3 linked regions of the Homo sapiens genome follow. The protein of the gene in region 1 interacts with the protein of each later gene in a biochemical or structural test. Each region holds a gene or a part of one and is shown on either strand. Other genes may lie near its edges.

Evidence for each region. Proteins that work in one complex are often made in the same cells at the same time.
Region 2: the proteins of ASAP1 (region 1) and PACSIN2 form a complex in vitro, tested with the Homo sapiens proteins (one study listed by IntAct).
Region 3: the proteins of ASAP1 (region 1) and SH3GL2 form a complex in vitro, tested with the Homo sapiens proteins (one study listed by IntAct).

What each region holds. Positions count from the first base shown.
Region 1 is NC_000008.11:130,440,661-130,448,426, reverse strand, and holds the start of ASAP1 (arf-GAP with SH3 domain, ANK repeat and PH domain-containing protein 1), read left to right. Parts: upstream 1-4,752; 5' UTR 4,753-4,967; intron 4,968-7,766. UniProt on the Homo sapiens protein: Possesses phosphatidylinositol 4,5-bisphosphate-dependent GTPase-activating protein activity for ARF1 (ADP ribosylation factor 1) and ARF5 and a lesser activity towards ARF6.
Region 2 is NC_000022.11:42,886,141-42,893,164, forward strand, and holds part of PACSIN2 (protein kinase C and casein kinase substrate in neurons protein 2), read right to left. Parts: intron 5,043-7,024; coding exon 4,807-5,042; intron 2,659-4,806; coding exon 2,503-2,658; intron 1-2,502.
Region 3 is NC_000009.12:17,582,051-17,589,074, forward strand, and holds part of SH3GL2 (endophilin-A1), read left to right. Parts: intron 1-7,024. UniProt on the Homo sapiens protein: Implicated in synaptic vesicle endocytosis. May recruit other proteins to membranes with high curvature. Required for BDNF-dependent dendrite outgrowth.

The sequences.
Region 1 (7,766 bases):
GGCTCACAGCAGGCCTTGACCTCCAGGCTCAAGCGATCCTCCCACCTCAAGGGATCCTCCCACCTCAGCTTCCCAAGTTGCTGGAACTAGAAGCACATACTACTATGTCTGGCTAATTTTAAATTTTTTTGTAGAGATGGGGTCTTGCCATTTTGCCCAGGCTGGTCTCAAACTCCAGGGCTCAAATGATTCCCTTGCTTTGGGTCTCCCAAAGTGTTGGGATTACAGGCATGAGCCACCTTGCCTAGCCCAGAGCATGATTTTCATAAGGAATTAAACTCAGGGGTCTAAACTCAAGATACCCACCTAGCTCCTGGTCTGTGACTTCAGGATGTTCATGGTGGAACTTTAGAGTTCTGCACCTTGCCCTTCGGCCCTCTCCTTCAGCAGACAAGGTGGCCTCTTCCAGTCCAGGGTTCGTGCCCCCAACCCACTCTAGTTCCCATCTCCTCTCATCCTCAGTACCTGTTCTATCAATGAACCATCCCTTCCTCTCAACCTCACCTACCAACCCAGATGCTTGCCTGCCCACACATTTTTAAAGAAGCCTCTACCCTTACCTCCCACTTGCTAGACAGCTACATTTCTGAAAAGAGTTGTCCACGCTTACTGTCTCCCACTCCGTCCTCAACCCACCGCAATCTGGCTTCCAATCCCTCCACTCCATCGAGACAGCTCTGGTAAAAGTTATCAGCCTTCTCATTGTCAAATGAAATGAACACTTGCTTTCTGGTCCTTTCTTGATGAAATTTCCTGTGACATTTGTGAATGTTGCTCATTCCTTCCTTGTAAAAGCAATTTCTTCCCATGCCCCCTGGTTCTCCTCTGGTTCTCTTCTTCTCATTATTCACTCTCCCAACAGCTTGAACTGGCAAGAAAGACAGTGCAGGGTGGTGAAGAGCCTGGACTCCAATGCTCCTTGATATGGTTTGGCTGTGTCCCCACCCAAATTTCATCTTGAATTCCCATATGCATTCCCCTGCACAAACTCTCTCTCTCTTTGCCTGCTGCCATCCACGTAAGACATGACTTGCTCCTCCTTGTCTTCTGCTGTGATTGTAAGGCTTCCCCAGCTGCGTGGAACTGTAAGTCCAATTAAATGTCTTTCTTTTGTAAATTTCCCAGTCTCACGTATGTCTTTATCAGAAGCCTGAAAATGGACTAATACACTCCTCTACTCACTAGTGGTTGGCCTTGGGCAAGTTACTCAACACTCCTGTGCCTCAGTTTCCTCAACTGCAAGATGGTGTAAGGCTTTTTAGTCTCATTGTTTTCCATGTCTGAACATGCATCATGTTCTCAGATCATGCTGAACCTGGTAGAGTCACCCACATATATTATGTGTTCATGCTCAGTCTTTACTCAGGCACTTGGGAGTGCCCAGCCAGTATCTGTGAATATATGCATGAACACTACTCTGGATTGGGTTTCCCCAGAAGTATACCTTGAGACAAGGAGATGGGTGCAGTTACTTTATTTGGGATCCCAAGAACAAATAAGGAAGTGAGAAAGTAAGGCAAGGAAGGGAGAAGAGGCAAAATCAAAGAGTGACTTAATGAGGGAGTGACTGCTGGGGGCAACTGGACTCATTCCTACTGGGGAATTCCTCTGAGGAACTGCCTTGAGAGCATTTGAGAATTGATCTTCCTTAGGGAAGGGGAGGCTGACACATTCATCCACTGTTTGGTTAAGGACTGACCCAGGGCTGTTGGAAACTTCCAGGCTAGGCAAGATCCCACAGCCCTTGAGAAAGCCTCCTGGTAGAGAGGAGAAAGGGGGCCTGCTTTGGATAGACAGTTTCTCTGTACAGAGGGCAGCTCATTGCAGCTGCCGGTGAGCTCAGAGGTGGGCCCAGGGGACATGGAGCCGAGCATCACTAACACTCACGCTTGTTACTCTGGTTGGCAGGCCTGTGCCCCCTTATCTAGCTACATAGGTCCCATCTCCTCCTTGAAAGTTCGTTCAAGAGCACCCACTTCTTGGAAGCATTTTCCAACTTATCTCCACCCTACTCCACCTTCAATGTTCTGAATAGCCCTGGATACCCTGGACATGACTCTATAAGAGTACTTATCTCTCTGCTTACTAGATAGAGCTTTCCTGTCTTTCTTAGCAAGAATAGTTCTTTTTCATCATTGCACATGTAGGGCCCAGATTTTTTTAGCACATTACAGGCACTTAACCGATGCCTTAAAATGAATTCAAGTTCACCTTGCTCAGGGACCCACTCAGAGCAAGTGGTCAACAAATGTGGACTCCTTTCCTCCATCTGATTTAGGAGAACAGTCATCTAGTGAGTATACAATATGACAAATATATTCTTTAAACAGAAATGCCAAGGAAGCACAAAGGAGGGAGTAATTAACTGGGACTATACCAATGAGACTATAGTTACCTCATTTGACAGTCTTAATTACTTAGGTTTTTTTTTTTTTTTTTTTTTTTTTTTTTTTTGAGACGGAGTCTCACTCTGTCACCCTGTCTGGGATGCAATGGCATGATCTCAGCTCACTGCAACCTCTGCCTCCCGGGTTCAAGCGATTCTCCTGCCTCAGCCTCTGGAGAAGCTGGGATTACAGGTGCCCACCACCACGCCCGGCAATTTTTTGTATTTTTAGTAGACACGGGGTTTCACCATGTTGGCCAGACTGGTCTCAAACTCCTGACCTTAGGTGATCTACCTGCTCGGCCTCCCAAAGTGCTGGGATTACAGGCGTGAGCCACCGCGCCTGGCCTACTTATAGTTTTAGTTTTCCAGAAGCACTAATAGAGCCATCTGGTGCTCCTTCCACCGCACTGGGCGTTCCCTTTTGAATCTCTCCACCAAAGAGGAAGCCACAGGGAGCTGCGGGACCGAGTGAACCACCCTACCTCAGGCAGAGGTCCCATCTGCAACTCTAGTTTGTTTGCTTCTTTCATTTATTCAACACGTGTTTATCGATGGTCTCATATGGGCCAGCACTGTTCTAAGGAAACAGGCAAAGGTACTGCTGTAATGCAGTTTACCCATGCAGTGGGGAGAGTGGGGGGCAGATAAAAAATAAGCAACCAATCATGTAGGCTACATTAAACAGTGACAAGGGCTATGAAGCAATCAAACAGGATGCGCTATGTTTGGGAGAGGTGGAGGTGGGGTGTAGGTGCCAGAGACAAGCAGATCACATGGTTGGGGAAAACCTATCTGCGGAGCTGACTTCTGGGCTGTGAGCTGCGTGCCAAGAACAGCCATACAAGGGTTCTTCCAGGCAGAGGGGACGGCAGCTACAGTGGGCCTGGAGCAGGACCCTGGGACTCCTGGTGCCCAGCTCAGAGCTGTCCTACTGCTTCTGGCCACGGAGAGAGAATTGCAGAAAAGGAACAATGCTGGGTCTAAAACTGGTATCTGTTCCTTACTTGGAGTAAACGAGCTGGTACCCAACTTTCAGTTCCCAGCAGGTTCATTTCAGGCTTCTGTTTTCGCTCATGAGCATGTTGTTCCCTCTTCAAAGTCTGATTGGGTTTCAAAGGAATCTGAAACACTTACAGCAAAACCACCAAGCTGCATCCTCCAGGTAGACACCCCCGAAATGTGGCATTTCCGTGGGAAACCACAATGAATCACTCATTGGCTGCCCGACCTCTCTGCCCAGTCAGAGATTGATTTTGGTTTTCCCAAACTTTGTAAATCCGCTCCAGACTGTTTAACAACCCCCACTCCCCACTACACCCAGACTCTCAGATTAGGAGCAAAATCCCAAATTTTGTGAGGTTTTCTGTTTCGGATTTCACCAGAAGGGGGTCTGCCACAGCCACTAACCATTTCCTCTGCAGAGAGCCGTTTCTGAAATGCTGCAAAGAAAAACAATCACCCAATGATTAGGAGGGAAATTAAGTTCTAAAGAAAGACTACTGTCTCTGACTTTGAAAGTAGACATAGATATGCACAATATACATCCCACAAATTAAAATCCTCCTTTCTCTGATGTCTTTTAATGGTAATAATAAGGACAAGCATGGCTATCATTTATTTGGGCGTTTCCAATGTGCCAGTCCCTGTCTAAACATTCAGCTTCCAGATCAAACCTATGAGGGTGGAATTAACATCCATTTCATAAATGGAAACTGAGGCTCAGGAAAGTTGAGCGAGTTACTCAAGGTAACATGAGTAGAAAAAAGGCCATATTCCAACCGGACACAGAGCCTGCAGCCCACACAATTACTCTCCATACTGTTCCTATACTATCCTGACTGGGAAGGTCCTGTTCCCTTGGCACTGGGCAAAAATAAAATTATAAGAGCAGAGAGGAAGTGGTGAAAGGGGGCAGCCTGGTGAAATCATTCCTTTACTGAAAATAGGGGTAACGGCCAGGACAGTGCAGGTCCATCCTCTGCAGATGGAAGACAGGCACGTCCTTTGCCGCTGTCCCGGCCTTAGAAAGGCACCTTCCGCGTCCAGGGTTTTCTGTGGATAAATCCCACCCCTTCCACCTCAGGCGGGGAGGAGGCCGGCCGGCCGGGGCATGGGGCGGAAGGCGAAGGACGCCCGACCCCGGCCGAGGTCTGGGGCCCCTCCCACGCCCCCCTCGTGGCTGCCGGCGGGCCAAGGGTTAAGCGAGGCGGGAGCCCCCGGCGCGGAGCGGCTCGGGGCCGGGAATGCTTAGTCAGGATTCCGATTTCCTGTCGAAGTGTTTGGATTTCCTGAAACCCGCGCCCTCCGCCGCCGAGCGGGATCGTGCGAGCCGCTCGCGTCGCCGCGGCCTCCTCCCCCTCGGCACATGGTCGCCCGCCCCTTCCTGCGCCGCGCTCGGCTCCCGCGCCTCGCCTGGCCTGGCCGCTGCCGCGGGCGAGCACTGTGCGCTGGGCAGCCCCGGGCCCGCGCCTCCCGCCCAGCCGGCGCTTCCCGGTCGCAGTTCGCTTTCCCACCCGAGAGCCGCGAGCGCCCGGCCGAACCCGCGATGGAATAATGCCCAGCGGCCCGCCAGGTCCCGGTGAGTTGCGGGGCGCTCGGGCGCGCTCGGCGGGGCCGGGCGGAGTCGCCCACAGTCGCGGGCGCCCCCTGCCCAGTCTCTCGCGCGAAGAAGGGCGCCGGGACGGGGCGCGGGGCGGGCTCCCGGCTCCTCTCGCAGCGGGGTGTCCTTCTCCGCGGGGAGGGCGCCGGCCCTGGGCTGGGGCGTGTGCGGGACGCGCGGCCAGGCTCTGCGGGGCCGGGCGAGGCCGCCCGGTGGGGGGGGGAGGTCTCCTCGCCTCCAGCTCGGGAGAGGGGGCCCCTGCAGTGGGGCCGGGGACGGGGCCCGCCCTGGGGGGTTTCGCGTCCCCCTCCGGGGGAGGGCCCGGGACGACGTGCTTGGCGGCCCGGACCCCGCCGATGGGGCGCCCTCCCGGCATTGTCTCTGGTGCAGCCGAGGAAAGTTCCCCGCGGCCCCCGGCCCCTACCCGGACCCGGCGCTGCTTGGCAGGCCCCAGGCCACTTGCCTAAAGCAAAAGAAGAGAAACGAAAGGGAAGGGGGTGGGGGGAGTCCTACTTGGAGCTTGGGGTTGGCTCCTGGGCGGACCGTGAAGTGGCTTGTGTTTTCTGCTTGTACCATTTTGGGACCTGCTGCGTTTTCTGAGAGCGACATGAAGTTTCAAAGAAAAAAGAAACTTGCCGGTGTCCGGTTTTCTGCGGTTTGATACATCCCAAGAGGTTCATCTTGGGCACTTCTAAAGCAGTTTCCTTTAATAATGTGGTTTTCCAGTAGCTCAGGGAGAAGGATGGTCAACTGCAGACCATCATCGTTAACTTGACCTCAACTTTACCTGTACTCGTCAGGAAAGCAAAAGAACTTTCTCTCGCATTTTCCCCTGTCTACTCTGTTAGGTTATCTTGGCGTGATTGATTCTGGGATGACATCAGGACCTGGATTGCTGAGTAATGTTTTGGGATTGTAAAAGCTTATCAGTTTTTAGGCCAGGGTTATCTGTATTGCAACCTTCATCCCAAAGCCTTTCTGTTTTGCAATTGTAGCGCGGCCAGATAGCTTTAAGAAAATGCGGGTCTTCTGGAAACACCCAGTGAACAGTTTGGAAAGAAAAAGATCTTTGAGAACAACTGATTCACCCCCTTCAGAGAAGGCCCAGAAAGGTGACCTGACTTGCCCAAGATCACATGGCCAGGAGTAGTTTCCACTTCTTCAGGCTCAGTCCCATGCCCCTTCTGTGTTAGATTTTGATCTGTTAGCCATGAAACAGATTTGGAAACGTCTTCTTTGCGTCACAGCCTTCACCACTTTAGTGCCTTCTCTTCTGTCCTGTTAATGCTGCTATTTTTGAGATATGCACTTATTTCAAACTGCATATTTTGAGATAGGGAGTTAAAAAAAACAAAAATCACCTAACGCCACTAAGTGGATTTGGAGATTCAGCTACCAAATGGATTTGAAGTATAAAATGAGTGGCTTATTATACGGGGAATTACTTTCCCTATCCCATTCTTTTGTGCAAAATAGAAACTCCCAGGTCCAAAAAAGGGCAGTATCTTAGCACATAATGTACCCTCTGATGTTCTCTAGACTTGATTTTCAGCCCTCCTGTTTCTTGTGAGCTAAGCAGCCCATCTATTTTTCTCATGAGAGCTCTGAATGGCTGGTTTTTCATTTTTAGTATGTGATAATGTTGGAGAGAAAGGACTTTTCGCAAGCTTGCCATTTGGTGAGGGAAATTGAAATTCTCTACACCTCCCCAGTCCTCACCAGCCACAGCGAGCCAGATTTTCAAAATCAGTGCAAGCCTGGCAGGCCCAAAGATGAATGTGTGCATTCAGATTGAGCCCTCCCTTGTGAAGACTCACGTCCCAGCTGGCATCTCCATGCTGCACCTAGGTGACTGAAGTCTAGAGGAAAGAAGGGAACCCCAGTTAGCTAGGACAGTGTTGTTCCTGCCATTTCCCCACCTAGGTCTCAGCCGTATTTGGATCCTGCTGCTCGGTTCTCATTTTTCCCTGCCGTTTTTTCACCCAACCACTGCTGTATCTGGCATGGGCTCCGGAAGGTCTTTTCTAGGAGACTGCATGAGTGATCCCCACGTGAGCAATAGTAACAGTCACCCCATTTATTAAGCACTTGCTGTATGCCCTAGACATGTTACCTCCTAAGAAGTCCTAAGGAGGAGCGGAAACTTCTTGGGGAGCCTTGCCCAGAAAGGACAGCACATCTCAGATTTATCTGGAATCGAGTTTTTCTTTCATGCATCCAGTGAAACATTTGCTAAGTGGCTTCCCTGTGGGAGGTGCCAGTCCTGCAAAGATGAATAGGACCCTGTTCTCAAGGCCTTCTATTTCCAGCCTCATCTTTCAATGTCAGCCTCACACTTTCTCTTTTAATTCATCAATTGAACAACCATGCATTGAGCACCTGCGCCATGCTAAGCCCTGTGTGGAGTCCTGATGATACAGTGGTGGACGAAATAGACCTGGCACTGCCCTTCTGGAGCTTGCATTCCTCTGGAGGAGATGAGCAACAAGGAAGAAGCAGAAGAAACAACCTCTAACAGATGAGTGATTCCTTGTTATCAAGGAAACAAACCTGGGACCAAAGTAGGGGCTGGTGGCACAAGTTGGTCCTAGTTTTGGAAGGGAAAGCCTTTCTGAGATTGGAAAATGGAGAAGGAACTGGCCAGGCAGAGAGATTGCAGGGGAGGGCCTTCCAGGCAGAGGGATGGGAATGTGCAAAGTTGACTATGCACAAAAGAGCTTGGTGTATTCCAAGGAGTGAGGGAAGGCAGGGCTAGAGTGTAAGGGAGAGATGGGGGGA
Region 2 (7,024 bases), on another chromosome or scaffold:
GCCTGTGCCGACCCTGCTAGCCCCAAGTCCTGCCCCCAGCACAGGCCAGGTACTCAGCAGGGTCATCACTGTTCTGGAAATCCCCTTGCAGGGCATAGAAAGTTCTCAGCGAACACCCATGGAGTAAAACAAGAGGCGGCCTTCACCCTTAGGTGGATTGTAATATTTTAGCACTAAATGCAAAAAGTTCTTTTATGATGGATGCTACAAGATGTAGTTGATGGCTGATAAGAAACATGAAAGTACATGTGCAACCAGTCAGCAATGGTATGTATGTAGGTAGGTAGGTAGGTAGGTAGGTAGGTAGGTAGGTATGTATGTACCTACCTACTTACCTACTTTAGAGATGAGGTCTCACTCTGTCACCCAGGCTGGAGTGCAGTGGTGTGACCACAGCTTGCAGCAGCCTTGAACTCCTGGGCTCAAGCAATCCTCCCGCCTCAGCCTCCAAAGTAGCTGGGACTACAGGCACGTGCTACCACACCCAACTAAGTTTTTAAATTTTTTGTAGAGATGAGGTCTCACTATGTTTCCCAGGCTGTGTGCTGGATTTTGGAAACTGCGTCAAGAAGGGTGGTGGGGAGGGACTGGCCTCCTCTCCAGAGCTCTAGGCACACAAGGACCTCTCATATCCTGCAGTCACTGGCCAGACCAAAGAGGCAGGGAGGGTCCCAGGAGGGAACCCACTACAAACTGTCCCAGTCATCCTGCCAGGCGCTTATGTCCAACCTCGAGCCCTGGGCCTGTTCTGCAAAAGCCTGAGTTGATGTTCTGGGTGGCTGTCAAACATGAAAGGCCTCTTCCTCTCCATCTCTGTCTCCCTTTCTCTCACACAGGCACGCCCCCGCCCAACATGGAGAAGCCCCATCTTTCCTCTAGGCACCTTTTTGGGCACCTGATTCCCTGGGATTCTGGCAAAGGCCCGAGAGTTCTCCCGGACCTTGTGCTTCTTGAGCCCAGGTGCCTCCCACTCAGTAGTTGGTTCCAGGCTCCTCACCTGATCCCACCGTGGAGGCACCTGGGCTGCTTCAAAAGCCCAGATTCCTGGCTCCAGCAATGGGAGTGAGAGGGGTTTCCCAGAGGATTCTGACACTTGGTCTGAGTGACGAACTCTCGTGTAGATGACGTGTTCCCCTTGCTACACCGACGGCATAGCAGTGAGGAACAGTGGAGAAAGGGCATATGTATGGGCTTGAGGTCAGAAGTTCCTGCTCTCACCTGCTGGATGGCACGTGACTTAACCTCTCTGATCTTGGTTTCCTCATTCACAAAACAGGGATGCCACCACCTAACTGACAGGGGCCAGGAAAGGCTGGTGGGTAGTGAAACCAGCTTAGGCCTCTTGCCTCCCCTCTGCCCATGTCCTCTTCCTGGAGTGCAGCCTCTCTCTACCTCATTCCGTCTCTCTCTGCAAATCCTGGTTGGGAATCTCCTCTCCAAACACCGAGGCAGGGCAGGCCCTCGGCAATCACACCCCCCAGCCCTCACCCCTCATGGCTGACCAAAGGAGGGGAGGTGGGGCCGAGGGCTGAGCCCCTCCCTTCCTGTGAACTTTTAAATCACAAGACGATGACGCTGTCTGGTTTTAAGTCCTGTGACTCCAGGACCTTCCAGGCAGAATCACTTATCTACACCTGCGGAGCATGTAATAGTTTACACAATGATTTCTCATTAACCCATGGGGCAGAAAATCTCCGCTTCACAACAGAAATGGAAGGGCACCCATGATGCCACAGTGCCTGGTCACGGTCTCTCCTTGGCCAAAGACCACCCTTCTGCCACCCCTGGCTCCACAGCCTCTGCCTCACTTTCGGGGCCTGTCACTGTGGAGACTGCAGGGCCCCTCCATCCTCCCTCCCACCTGGCTCCCCCAGACAAGCGCTCCCAGCCTGCAGTCCCTCCCCCAGGTCTCTGCCCCCAGCCCCTCTCCCTACACAAGCAGAGCAATCCTTCTAAACCATCTCACCCTCCTCACCTCCTCCCTGATCCCACCCAGGCTCAGGCCTTCCTGAGTGGCTCCTGGTCAGCAGCATCCTAAGCTCCTTACTCAGCCTGGCTGTCCAGGCCACTGGTGATTTGGTCCTCATAACCCTCCATACCAGCTCACACCACACCCATTCACACCCACCACTGGCCACAACCATTCACACCTGCCACCAGCCACACCCATTCACACCCACCACTGGCGACGCCCATGTTGGCACAAGCAGCTCCCTGCAGCAATCCCAGCTGTCCTTGTGTCTCTGAGCACCAAGAGCTGTCTCTTACCCCTGGCTTGCCCAGAGCCTGGCTCTGTCCCTTGACTGAGCAGGTACAGTGGCTATGGTGAGGCGAGGTGCTAGGGCACTCACCTGTGGCCTTCTTGAGGACAGGGGTGTGTTTTATTGGTTATTTATCCCTCTATCCACCCATTCACCCAAGCAGTTACAGAAGGCTATATGCCAGACACGTCAACAACTGACACGGTGACACTCGACGTGTAAAAACAAGTGTACAGTTTACCTTAAGAACATCTTGCTTGCACTTTTCTATTTTGTCTTGCAATTTCTTGAGCTGTTCAGGGTTGAGGGATGGGTCTGCCTTGCTGTTGGCTTCTCGTGAGATAGCCAGCTTCTCCTCTTTGCACGCTGCATGGTGGGCTTTCTTTGCTGCTTCTACCTACAGGGAGAATGAGTTCCTGAATGCCATGTCACTGGGAGTTCAGGATCCTCACTAGAAGTCACACAGACCATGGGAATGCTTGTGCTACCAAGAGGGGAGAAAAAGGCAGGTACAAAATTGTATGTATACTATCATAGCAACCAGTCACAACAGGAACGCACTCAACACATATTCATGGAGTACTTGCTTGTCCTGTGCATGGTTCGAGGCACCAGGAACACAGCAAGAAACACAAGGTCTTTGTGAAGCTTTCATTTGAGTTGCAGGAGGCAGATACAGTATAGGAAAAGTTACATGCCAGAGTCAATTAGAGGGCATTAAGTGTAGGGGAGGACAACTGAGACGGAGCATGGGGTGGGTGGAGAAAGCCACTGAGATGACATGGAACACGCACATGGAGCACGCACATGGAACACGCACATGGAGGGGTTATGGGCATCCCAGGAAGACCATGCCAGGCCGCAGGATCGGCAAATACAAAGAAAGTTCCAAGGAGGAACCCAGCATGAGAGAGAGGACCATACTAGGGGGCAGGGCCATCAGCCACATTTCCTCTGGTTTTAATGGTTTTTACACACACACACACACACACACACACTCTTAACAGATCCTTCCTTATTTGAGCCAAAGCCACAAATTTCATTCTAGAGGGAAGGAGGAGTTTATTAGCAAAGGCCTCATGAGACACAGACAGTTTCATTATGAATGGGGCCAGGGACAAAACAGAAGAGAAAGGAGATGTGACAAAAGCTAAGACACAGAGAAAAGGAGACACAGAGAAAACCATCCGGAAGGACAGAGGCATGTTCTGGATGATTCTGAGGCGGAGGAAGGCAGCGCAAGGCCAGAGAACATCTGGGTGTTGGGGGTGGCACATCTACCGTCTACTCCATTCCAGCTAGGAATGGGGGGCGAGGCTGCAGGCAGGGGCGGGGCACACAAGCTGAGGGCTGGGGTGGACAGATGACAGCCTCCAACTAGCCAAGGCTCGACAAAACTCAATGGCTTTGGTTGCTACTTTTAGAAAAACAGGTATCAATGTTTGAAATTTTGGGATAAAAACCTATGCAAGAGAAAGAAAAATGTAAACTAGTTCTTTCTATCGTCAAAGGGACTTGAAAAAAAAATAAAGTGAAAGCAAGTTTATTGAGAAAGTAAAGGAATAAAGAAAGGCTACTGCACACGCAGAGCAGCCAAAGGGACTTTTTTTTTTTTTTTTGAGACAGAGTCTCCCTCTGTCACCAGGCTGGAGTGCAGTGGCGTGATCTCAGCTCACTGCAACTTCCACCTCCTGGGTTCAAGTGATTCTCCTCCCTCAGCCTCCTGAGTAGCTGGAACTACAGGTGCCCGCCACCACGCCCTGCTAATTTTTGTACTTTTAGTAGAGATGGGGTTTCATCATGTTGGCCAGGATGGTCTCAATCTCCTGACCTCGTGATCCGCCTGCCTCAGCCTCCCAAAGTGCTGGGATTACAGGCGTGAGCCACCGCGCCCGGCAAGGACTTTTAAGTCTCCAGCAGACACTTCCCCAGGGTTGGGAGAAGTACTGTTAGTGGTTAAGAGCTTGGGCTTTGAGCTCTACCACCAATGTATGGTTCTGATCCTCAGTTACCAAATCTGTAAAATGTGTTGGTAGGATCAAATTTAAAGAATGCCCTGTAATTCCAGCACTTTGGGAGGCCAAGGTGGGTGGATCACCTGAGGTCAAGAGTTCGAGACCAGCCTGGCCAACATGGTGAAACCCCGTCTCTACTAAAAATACAAAAATTAGCAGGGTGTGGTGGCATGTGCCGGTAGTCCCAGCTACTCGGAGGGCTGAGGCAGAATTGCTTGAACCCAGGAGGCACAGGTTGCAGTGAGCTGAGATTGCACCACTGCACTCCAGCCTGGGAGAGAGAGTGAGACTTTGTCTCAAAAAATAAAAATAAAAAATTTAAAGAATGCACATAGAGCATTCAGCATCTTCAACCTGGGTAAATGTCAACTACCATGGGCTTCTAGCCTGAGGAGTGGCTTCATCTCTACCAGGTCTGGCCTCCTGTGCCTACAGCCAGTGGCAGGAAGTCCTAGGTGCAGGAGGTGGTGCTGCTAGTGGGGTGCCAGGCAGAGCAAGGCCGGGCAGGGAAGCCTGCAGGACAGATGTACCTCTTTCAGCTTCTTGGCCCAGGGCTTCTGTGCCTTCCGAAAGCCGTCCTCAGCTTCCTTGGTCTCCTTGAAGCCGCCCATCATCTGCTTGTGAAAGGCTTCCTTCTGCCAGTTCTTGATCTTCTCGAAGTCATCGTTCATCAGTGAGGCCTTCACCTCGAGGTGCAGCTCGCTCACCCTCTCTGCCTCGGACATGAAGGCCATCCAGGCCTTCTCCACGGTCCCGTACTGGGGCCCTGTGCAGGGGAGAGAAGCTGCGGGTCACTCAGCGCCGGCCATGGTGGGGTCTGCTCTGCTCACACCTCGGCTGTTCAATGTGGCCATTTAGACCACAGAGGGTTTCCTTTCAGGGTTTCAGATATTTTTCTCTCAGGGACTCTGTGCCTTTTTCAGTTCCCAAAGCTGAATTTGCTCTGCCCCTCGTGTTAGGAAAATTGGGGGATTACATGCCTTTCCTTTATTTTTATTTTTGGGATGGAGTTTCGCTCTTATTGTCCCGGCTGGAGTGCAGAGACGTGATCTTGGCTCACTGCAAACTCTGTCTCCCAGGTTCAAGAGATTCTCCTGCCTCAGCCTCCCGAGTAGCTGGGATTACAGGTGCCCGCCACCACGCCTGGCTAAATTTTTGTATTTTTAGTAGAGACGGGGTTTCACCATGTTGGCCAGGCTGGCTGATCTCGAACTCCTGACCTCAGGTGATCCATTCGCCTCGGCCTCCCAAAGTGCAGGGATTACAGGCGTGAGCCACCGCGCCCGGCCATGCCTTTCCTTTATTTAAAGCCACTGAACTCTATAAAAACTCAAATTTCCACATCTTAGAAGTCTTAATTTACTTAAAGGTGGCCAGAGAAGGGGGGACCTTCTGAAGTGAGCAGATGCTTCTCCCAGGTGTTGGGCACCCACCCACACCATGCCAACGCTTCTCCTGGCATGGCTCCTATCAGCCCTGCTTGGCCCCTGGCTAGCCCTGCACTGCCTTCCTCTGCAGGACTGTGTTCATTCACTCCCAGAAAGAGCCTGGCTCTGAGCACAAGCTTGAGAACACTGTGGAATGAGGACTGTCCCCTCAGCAGAATGGAAGCCCATCCTGCAGGAGGAAGGAGAGGAGGAAGCAGGAGCCTGCTCTGGACCAGTATGGCAGGAGGGGCTGAGTCGCCTCTCCCTACTCACTGTTCTCAGTCCCCGAGGCTCAGGAAGGAAGCCCTAATCCAGGCTGGCATTTCTATTCAGGGGGTAGGGTGGGGTGGCGTGAGGCTGGAGGGAGGGAGAGCCACAACGGAGCCGGGGCAGAAATCGAGAAGATCCATGGCTGGTCTTCAAGGTGGTCACAGGGACAGTGACCAAGTGCGCTGAGTCATGACAGAGGTGGGCTGAGGGGAGGGCAGGCTGTGAGAACCCAGAGGGGGACACGTGACTCTGGGGCTTGGAGACAACAGAGAACAGCCCCGGAAGTTGGACCTCTCTGTGCCTTCGTGTCTACAAAATGAGCACATTCCTGTCCTGTCCACAACGTTACAGCCAGACCCACAAGGTGAGGGTGGTAAGGGTGCTCTGTAAACCTCAAGCTCTGACTGACAGCTTGATCCTGGGAGAGGGGCTGCAGCAGGTGGAAACGAAATGACGACACTGCCACCGACCAAGGGAGCTGACCTATCCTAGGCCCCTCCTCTGCCACGTGCCTGCTCCACAGCCTGGGCACATACCCTGCCCTAAGGACTGTGCTAAGCCCACACAAACAACCCATGTCAGCATCACGGGAAAGGACAGGCAGCTGGACTAGACCTGGCTTGCTTGGGACCTGGCTCCCCTGATTGGCTGAGGACAGCTGGGGCTGAGGACAGCTGGTCAGCACAGGAAAGCCTGCCCCAAAACACACCTTGAGAAACCCACACTGCTCTGCTTCTGTGCCGGAAAGGCTGTAATCAGTCAAGTTCCCCTTCCCTGCTGGGAAGTGTGTTCTAAGCATGGCCCCTGTCCACACAACAGTGGCACTAATAAAGCTACAGAATCTTCTGAGCTTTTCGGTGGGGACAGAAGGGGGTGAAACCTCTGCCATACAACACCTGTAATTATTCCCTTAAAATGTAAACTCAGAAAGACTGCCAGGTGTTGCCAGCTAGTCTTATCTGACCTGCTACATGGCCAAGTTTAAAAATAAACAGCTCTCAGTGTTAGAAACTAAGGTGCCAAGCGGCAAGGCCTTCCACGTGATAGGAAC
Region 3 (7,024 bases), on another chromosome or scaffold:
GCTTGTGTTAGTAAGCGATGATAAATAAAACAGTATATTGTTTGTACTTGGAATTTCTGATTAAATGTGTCACAACTGTTGTCTTATATTAGAATTGGTTATTTCTACCTTGTTGCTGACAGTTATTTTCAATATGTTTACAATTTGGAGGTAAAAAAATGCTTTTGCCAAGTAAAATTTATTAGAGAAGAAAATCCTTTCAGCATGAAAATATATAATGATACCAAAAATTGATTGATCATCTTATTTTCATGTACTTCATTACTTAATTGCTCATAAAGATATAATTTACTGTATAATTAGAATAAAGTATTCTTTTTTTACTGTAATAAAGGGCAGATGATCTTGTGTTGCTCTTTTAGTGAGTTTTATTCATATTGAGATTTCATTTTACAAAAGTCATGTCAGTTTTTTTACACTTGTTTTAAACTGGCAGCAGCTTAGTTAAAAATAGCTGTTTCCAGTGAACATGAAGCTCCTACAAAATCTGTATTTTTAAAAATTCACTCTATCATGCATATGATGTGGACACATTTTGCTTTACAATATGTAAAAGTCTATTATAAAGTAAAATATATTAGGTCATTTTATGAGTTTGCTGGAGCTGCTGTAACAAAGTACTACAAACTGAGTCGTTTCAACGACAGAAATACATTGTTTCCCACTTCTTGAGACAAGCACACTTGAAGTCTGAGACCAAGGTGCCAGTAGGGCCACGAGCTCTCTGAAGGTATGAGACAGGATCTATTCGAGGCTGCCTTCTTAGCTCTTGTGCTTTGTTGGGAATCTTTGGGCTTCCTTGGCTTGTAGATACATCACCTTGGTCTCTGCCTTCATGCTCACATGACATTCTCCCTGTGTGTGTCTCAGTGTCCAAATTTCCCCATTTTGTAAGGACCCCAGTCATATAGGATTGGGCAAGCCCATCCTACTCCAGTATGATTTTATCTTAAATAATTACCATCTGTAATGCCCCTATTTCCAAATAAAGTTGCATTCTGAGCTATTGTAATTAGGACTTTAATATGAATTTTGGGAGGGGCACAGTTCAATCCATAACAGTCGTTATTTGCATAAAAGGATTAACCACAGTATTCTATATTTGATTCAACATCTAAGAGGACAGTTCAGCCTATAAATAACATATAACTTTCTATTGCATCAAAAAGATATACTTTCTCCTTTTTTAATGAGTTGGTTAGTATATTGCTAAGTTCTGAATGTGTCCCTCTAAAATACGTATGTTGAAGCTTGACTGCCAATGTGACAGTATTAAGAAATGGGGCCTTTAGGAGGTGACTAAGTCATGAGGGCACTCATGATTAAGTCATGAATGGGATTAGTGCTCTCTTAAAAGAAGTTGAAGGGGTCACCCTGTCCCCTTCCACCGTGTGAGGGTTTAGCAACAAGGCACCATCTTTGAAGCAAAGGGTGGGCCCTAGCCAGGCACAAATCTGTTAGTGCCTTCATCTTGGACTGCTAGCCTCCCAAACTGTGAGAAATAAATTCTATTATTTATAAATTACCCCGTCTAAGATATTTTGTTAGTAGCCTGAACAGACTAAGTCAGAAATATACCTATTATAAATTGTGTTTTCTGATTTTTTTAAATGATAAAATTAATTTGGGTAGGCTGGGTTTTATGATACAGTCTGGTATATGTTTATTTGTCACACTCAGATTCCTTAACTGGGAAAATTTCATCATGTTTGTGTTCTGTGTCTTTTTGTTTTACCTAATTTCCTCTTTCAGAATGCTGTATTTTATATGGATGCTTTGCTCAGGAGACCATTACATAAGTCTTTTCATGCATTTGTTGATTTGGTGAGATGTTAAACTTACTAAGTATTGGATTAAATATCTAATTAGTTATGACTTTATCTCAGTGAGATTTTCAGTTTCTTAATTGCCTCTAAGCAGTCAACTCTCTGCTGCCTTTAAAATCTTGGCTGTGGCTTGTTGCTTGACCCAGGATTTCTACACCTGTACCCTTTCACATTCTTAGCCAGTAGTCTCTAATAGGCTGCAAGGGGCCTATATATTTTATAAAATTATAAGTAACATTTTATACATGCATTTTTCTGAGGGAGAATGCCCTTAGCCTGTTACCAGATTCTTAAATAAATTCCTAATTGCTGCCCCTTCCTCCCCTCGAAAAGTAAAAATAGGGTGGGGCGTGGTGGCTCACTCCTGTAATCCCAACACTTTGGGAGGCCAAGGCGGGCGGATCACTTGAGGTCAGGAGTTCAAAACCGGCTTTGCCAGTGCAGTGAAACCTCGTCTCTACTAAAAATACAAAAAGATTAGCTGGGCGAGGTGGCAGGTGCCTGTAATCCCACCTACCCAGGAGGCTGAGGCAGGAGAATTGCCTGAACCCAGGAGGCCGAGGTTGCAGTGAGTCAAGATGGTGCCACTGCACTCCAGCCTGGGCAACAGAGTGAGATTCTGTTTCAAATAAATAAATAAATAAATTCATCATGTCATCAGGAGAAAGTGGATGTTTCTTACAATAATCACTCCAACAGTTCTGTTACTGGGCTTTAGGATGCCTGATCAAAATGCAGCCTTCTCTGCATTAATTTAGCAGCAATCAAATGTAAAAAACCTTTCCAGAGGTGTCAGGATTGAATGAGGTAATGCTTGTGAGAGTGCCATGCTTGCATAATAAGGATCACTTGAACCATGTAAAACAAAATGTTGTTAATGCGCTTGAAGTCAACGATACGGGCCTGTGGGGTATATGAAAAGAAAGTGGTGACTGAAAATGATTTCTCTGTAGACTGAGAGTCCTCGTGATTGAAGTTTGTGTTGTTGAAACAGCTATATTTTTGCAAGCTTTTTTCCCCATAGTGATTCTTTAATATTTTAAATTGAGTTTATATGAATTTTGGTTTCAGTCTACTTAGAAAATTTTAAAGTAACCTGCAAATTAATTAGAAGTACCCTAGAAAATGGCAAGACTTGGTTGGGGCAAATGGTGACTGTTTTGAGACAGATGTCATTGTGGAAGGGAGAGGTTTAATATTCAGGGGAAGGGAGCTGAAGCTTGCAGAGCAGATTCCATTCTGCCAAGCCTCTTGTGCTGCATACAGAGTCTCAGGGCATCAAGCAACCCGAGGGCTTTCTTCAGAGGAGTAGCTTGAGGCAGCGGCGAGAGAAGGGCAGGACACACTGACAAATGAATAATGAGAATTAGGTGAGGAGATGGAGTTTAAGAACTGCTTCAAACTTTAAGGTGGATACCTGATGGGGCTTTCTAGAGATGAGCAATTCTTCTCAATTTAAGGCCAGATAGGGGAGATGCTAAGTAGGTAAGAAGTCAGTGGATTTTTTGGCCTCCTTTTTTCTCTTTTTGTTCTTTTAATCCTTCGTACCCTTGTCCTGTGTTCTTTTAGGTAATGTTCAGTGAGGTGTAGCCACAAGAGGGGACATAGGAGAGGCTCAAGAAAACAGAGTTTATTATACTCACATGTCTTAGAATGACAATCACTGTACAGGAGGATAGGAGGGGGGACACGTGGGGTGGAGGTGACAGCTCTGAGAGCAGGATCAGCTAAGCAGGTGGGAAACAGGTGGGAGCAGAGAGAGCAAGGACTGTGGGCAAGTGCCTTTACTAGTGATCTCAGTGCAGTTCACAGCTCAGTGCAGTTCACAGTGCGTTGCATTGGTGCATTGGTAGGTCGTGGTCAGAAGAAGACAGAGAGGTGAACTTGTGGTAGGGGCCAACCTTATCAAACTTGTGCACCTGGTTACCTGGGTGGGGTGTTCACAGTTAGCGTATGTGGGAATGAATGTTGAGGCAGCAAGAGGCAGCAGGAGACAACATGTGAAGTTTTGAAACTTTGTAGTACAACCCTTCTCAGTGTTTTTGGTTTAGAATTTATTGTTTCCATAATCACTTAAGGAGCCTAAAAGCTTAAGAATGATGTACATGGTATCCGATGGATAATAAAGACTAAAGAGAGCTATAACTATACTTATTAAAATGCCATGATTGTGAGACCCTGCCAAGTCTTTTGCATTCTACCAACAAAATATTTTCATGCTATACTAAATCATTAGCTGATGACAAATGCTTCAGGAAATAATTTCACTATTTATAAAGGTTTTACATTTAGTACAACTTCTAAATGCCAAATATGATGTTGTAGTTGCTCTACCCTAATCTCCCTCCGCCATCCCCTGGGTCAAATTGTATATAGTAGTAATGAATATGGAGAAGCTGTCTGTAATACTCGTGAAGAACCCACAGCTCCATGGAGGTTTACTTGGATACTTAGGACACTGAAGGACCTCTAGGCAGTGTTTTCTGCCTTTTTTTGAATTATGATATATATAAAAAATAGAAATATCTTTTTTATAATTCAAACTAACCTTTCCCCATAGATACTAATGGAAGCAGTTTTATAATGCTGAGAAACATCTCAATATCAAGCTATGTATTAGTCTGTTCTCATGTTGCTAATAAAGGCATACCCGAGACTGGGTAATTTATAAAGGAAAGAGGTGTAATTGACTCACAGTTCTGCATGGCTAGGGAGGGCTCAGGAAACTTACAGTCATGGCAGAAGGGGGATCAAAAATGTCCTTCACATGACGGCAGCAAGGAGAAGTACAGAGCAAAGTGGGGTAAAAGCCCCTTATAAAACCGTCAGCTCTCGTGAGAATTCACTCACTATCACGAGAACAGTGTGGCGGTAACCACCCCTATGATTCAATTACCTCCCACCAGGTCCCTCCCATGACACATGGGGATTGTGGGAACTACAGTTTAAGATGAGATTTGGGTGGGGACACAGCCAAACCGTATCACAGAATAATGCTTGAAAGAAACATAAAGCAGATAGCCTATGCTTTTAAACGTACAGGAAATCGGCTGGGTGCGGTGGCTCATGCCTGCAATCCCAGCACTTTGGGAGGTCGAGGCAGGCAGATCACTTGAGGAGTTTGAGACCAGCTTGGCCAACATGGCAAAACCTCGTCTCTACTAAAAATGGGAAAATTAGCCAGGCTTGGTGATGCACAGCTGTATTTCTGGCTACTCAGGAGGCTGAGGCAGGAGAATTGCTTGCACCTGGGAGGCGGAGGCTACAGTGAGCCAAGATCACACCGTTGCACTCCAGCCTGGGCGACAGAGCGAGACTGTCTCAAAAACAAAACAAAACAAAACAAAAAGTACAGGAAATAATGTCCACAGTGAATGACTCCAGTGAGGAAAGGAGAGAAGGGGAGTCAGGACAGTTATTGTCCATAACAGTGATGGCATCCTGCAGGGGGCATTGTGAAATCCCCTGCCTGCCAGTAGAGGAAGTTCCTTGGTTTTACAATCTGGCTCTGCAATCTGGGAAGAACTCTTGTTCTTTCTTATATATATTTGGCCAGGTCTAAGGAGGGTTAGAGGAAATCTGCCCTCTTTGGGAACGGCATAACTTTTCAGTCAACTTCCTGTTTATTTAAATTTGGGGATTGTTTTACAGTCATAGGGTTTTCACTATCCATGGTAGATTTGAGTAATGAAATTTCTTCATAAACTTAGTAGGCTTCTGGCCAAGTGCGGTAGCTCATGCCTGTAATCCCCGCACTTTGGGAGGCCGAGGTGGGCGGGTCACCTGAGGCCAGGGGTTCAAGACCAGCCTGGACAACATGGTGAAGCCGCTTCTCTACTAAAACTACAAAAATTAGCCAGGCATGGTGGCCTACGCCTGTAGTCCCAGCTACTCGGGAGGCTGAAGCTTGAACCTGGGAGAGTTGCTTGAACCTGGGAGGCAGAGGTTGCAGTGAGCCAGATTGCACCACTGCACTCCAGCCTGAGCAGTAGAGCAAGTCACTGTCTCAAAAAAACAAAAACCAAAAAAAAAAAACCAGAAAAACTTCAACTTAATAGGCTTCTGATGTGTTTTCTTGTGAGTTTCATTTGCCAATTTCTATGATGGAAATTCTTTTTTAGACCTAATTTTCATCCAGTAGACTTGGTTGTGTTACTCTGAACTTAACAAGAGGGCCTGATACTTTGGCTTAACCAAGAAGTCTTAATGGTACTTTGTTGCTCAAAGTCTTTTTCATTTATATTTCCCGTTATTTGCTTCAGGGACTCAGGATGACCCTGGATCGGTTCTGCCATCTGTAACATATGGTTTTCAAGGTTGCCAAAGGGAAAGAATATGTTTGAACAAGCATGGGAGATGTTCATAAGCCAGGCCTGGAAGAGGAATATGGTAGACAGAATGCTACGATTGTTGGTGACTCTTGCTCTTGTGTACTCTCCTCCCCTTTGAGTGTGGGTGCAATGTTCAATTTGAAAAGATGTTATTCCTGAGACTTTTAACTTTGTAAGACAAAAGGGAGATTATATGATTGGACTTAATCTAATCTCATGAGCCCTTTAAAAGCAGGATATTTTCTCTGGCTGGTAGTGGAAGGAAAAATCAGAGAGATTGGAAGTATGAGCAGGACTGGACATGCTGTTGTTGGTTTAAAGAGGGAGGGGCCATGTGAGTAGTAATGCAGGCAGCCTCTAGGAGCAGAAATCAGCTCTTTGGTGACCATCAGCAGGGAAAATAGGGATCTTAGACCCACAGCCTTGAAGAATCTGAGAGGAAGGGAATTCTTCCCCCAAGCTTCCAGATAAGAGCCCAGTCTAGCCAACGCCTTCATTTTGGCCTTGTGAGGCCCTCAACAGGGAGCTCACTTAAGCAGGCCCAGACTTCTAATTTATAGAATTGTAAGATAATAAATGGGTATTGTTTTAAGCTGCTAAATTTGTGGTAATTTGTTATACAACAGCTGAAAATGAAGAGAAGGAATAGTTCCTTCTGTTTATGTTTGGTTGGCTGGAACTTGTAACATGGCCCCTCTGTGGTACACCTAAGAGAAATGGAAGAAGGCAAGTGTAGCCTAGCTATGTGCCCAGGATGTAAAAGTGGGTTTTTGGTTAAAAAGCTAGCAGTTTTGCTATTACTGGTGCCTATAATTAATTAATTGTGTGTCTGTATATTAATCTATTTGTGAGCTTGTAAGTGTATGT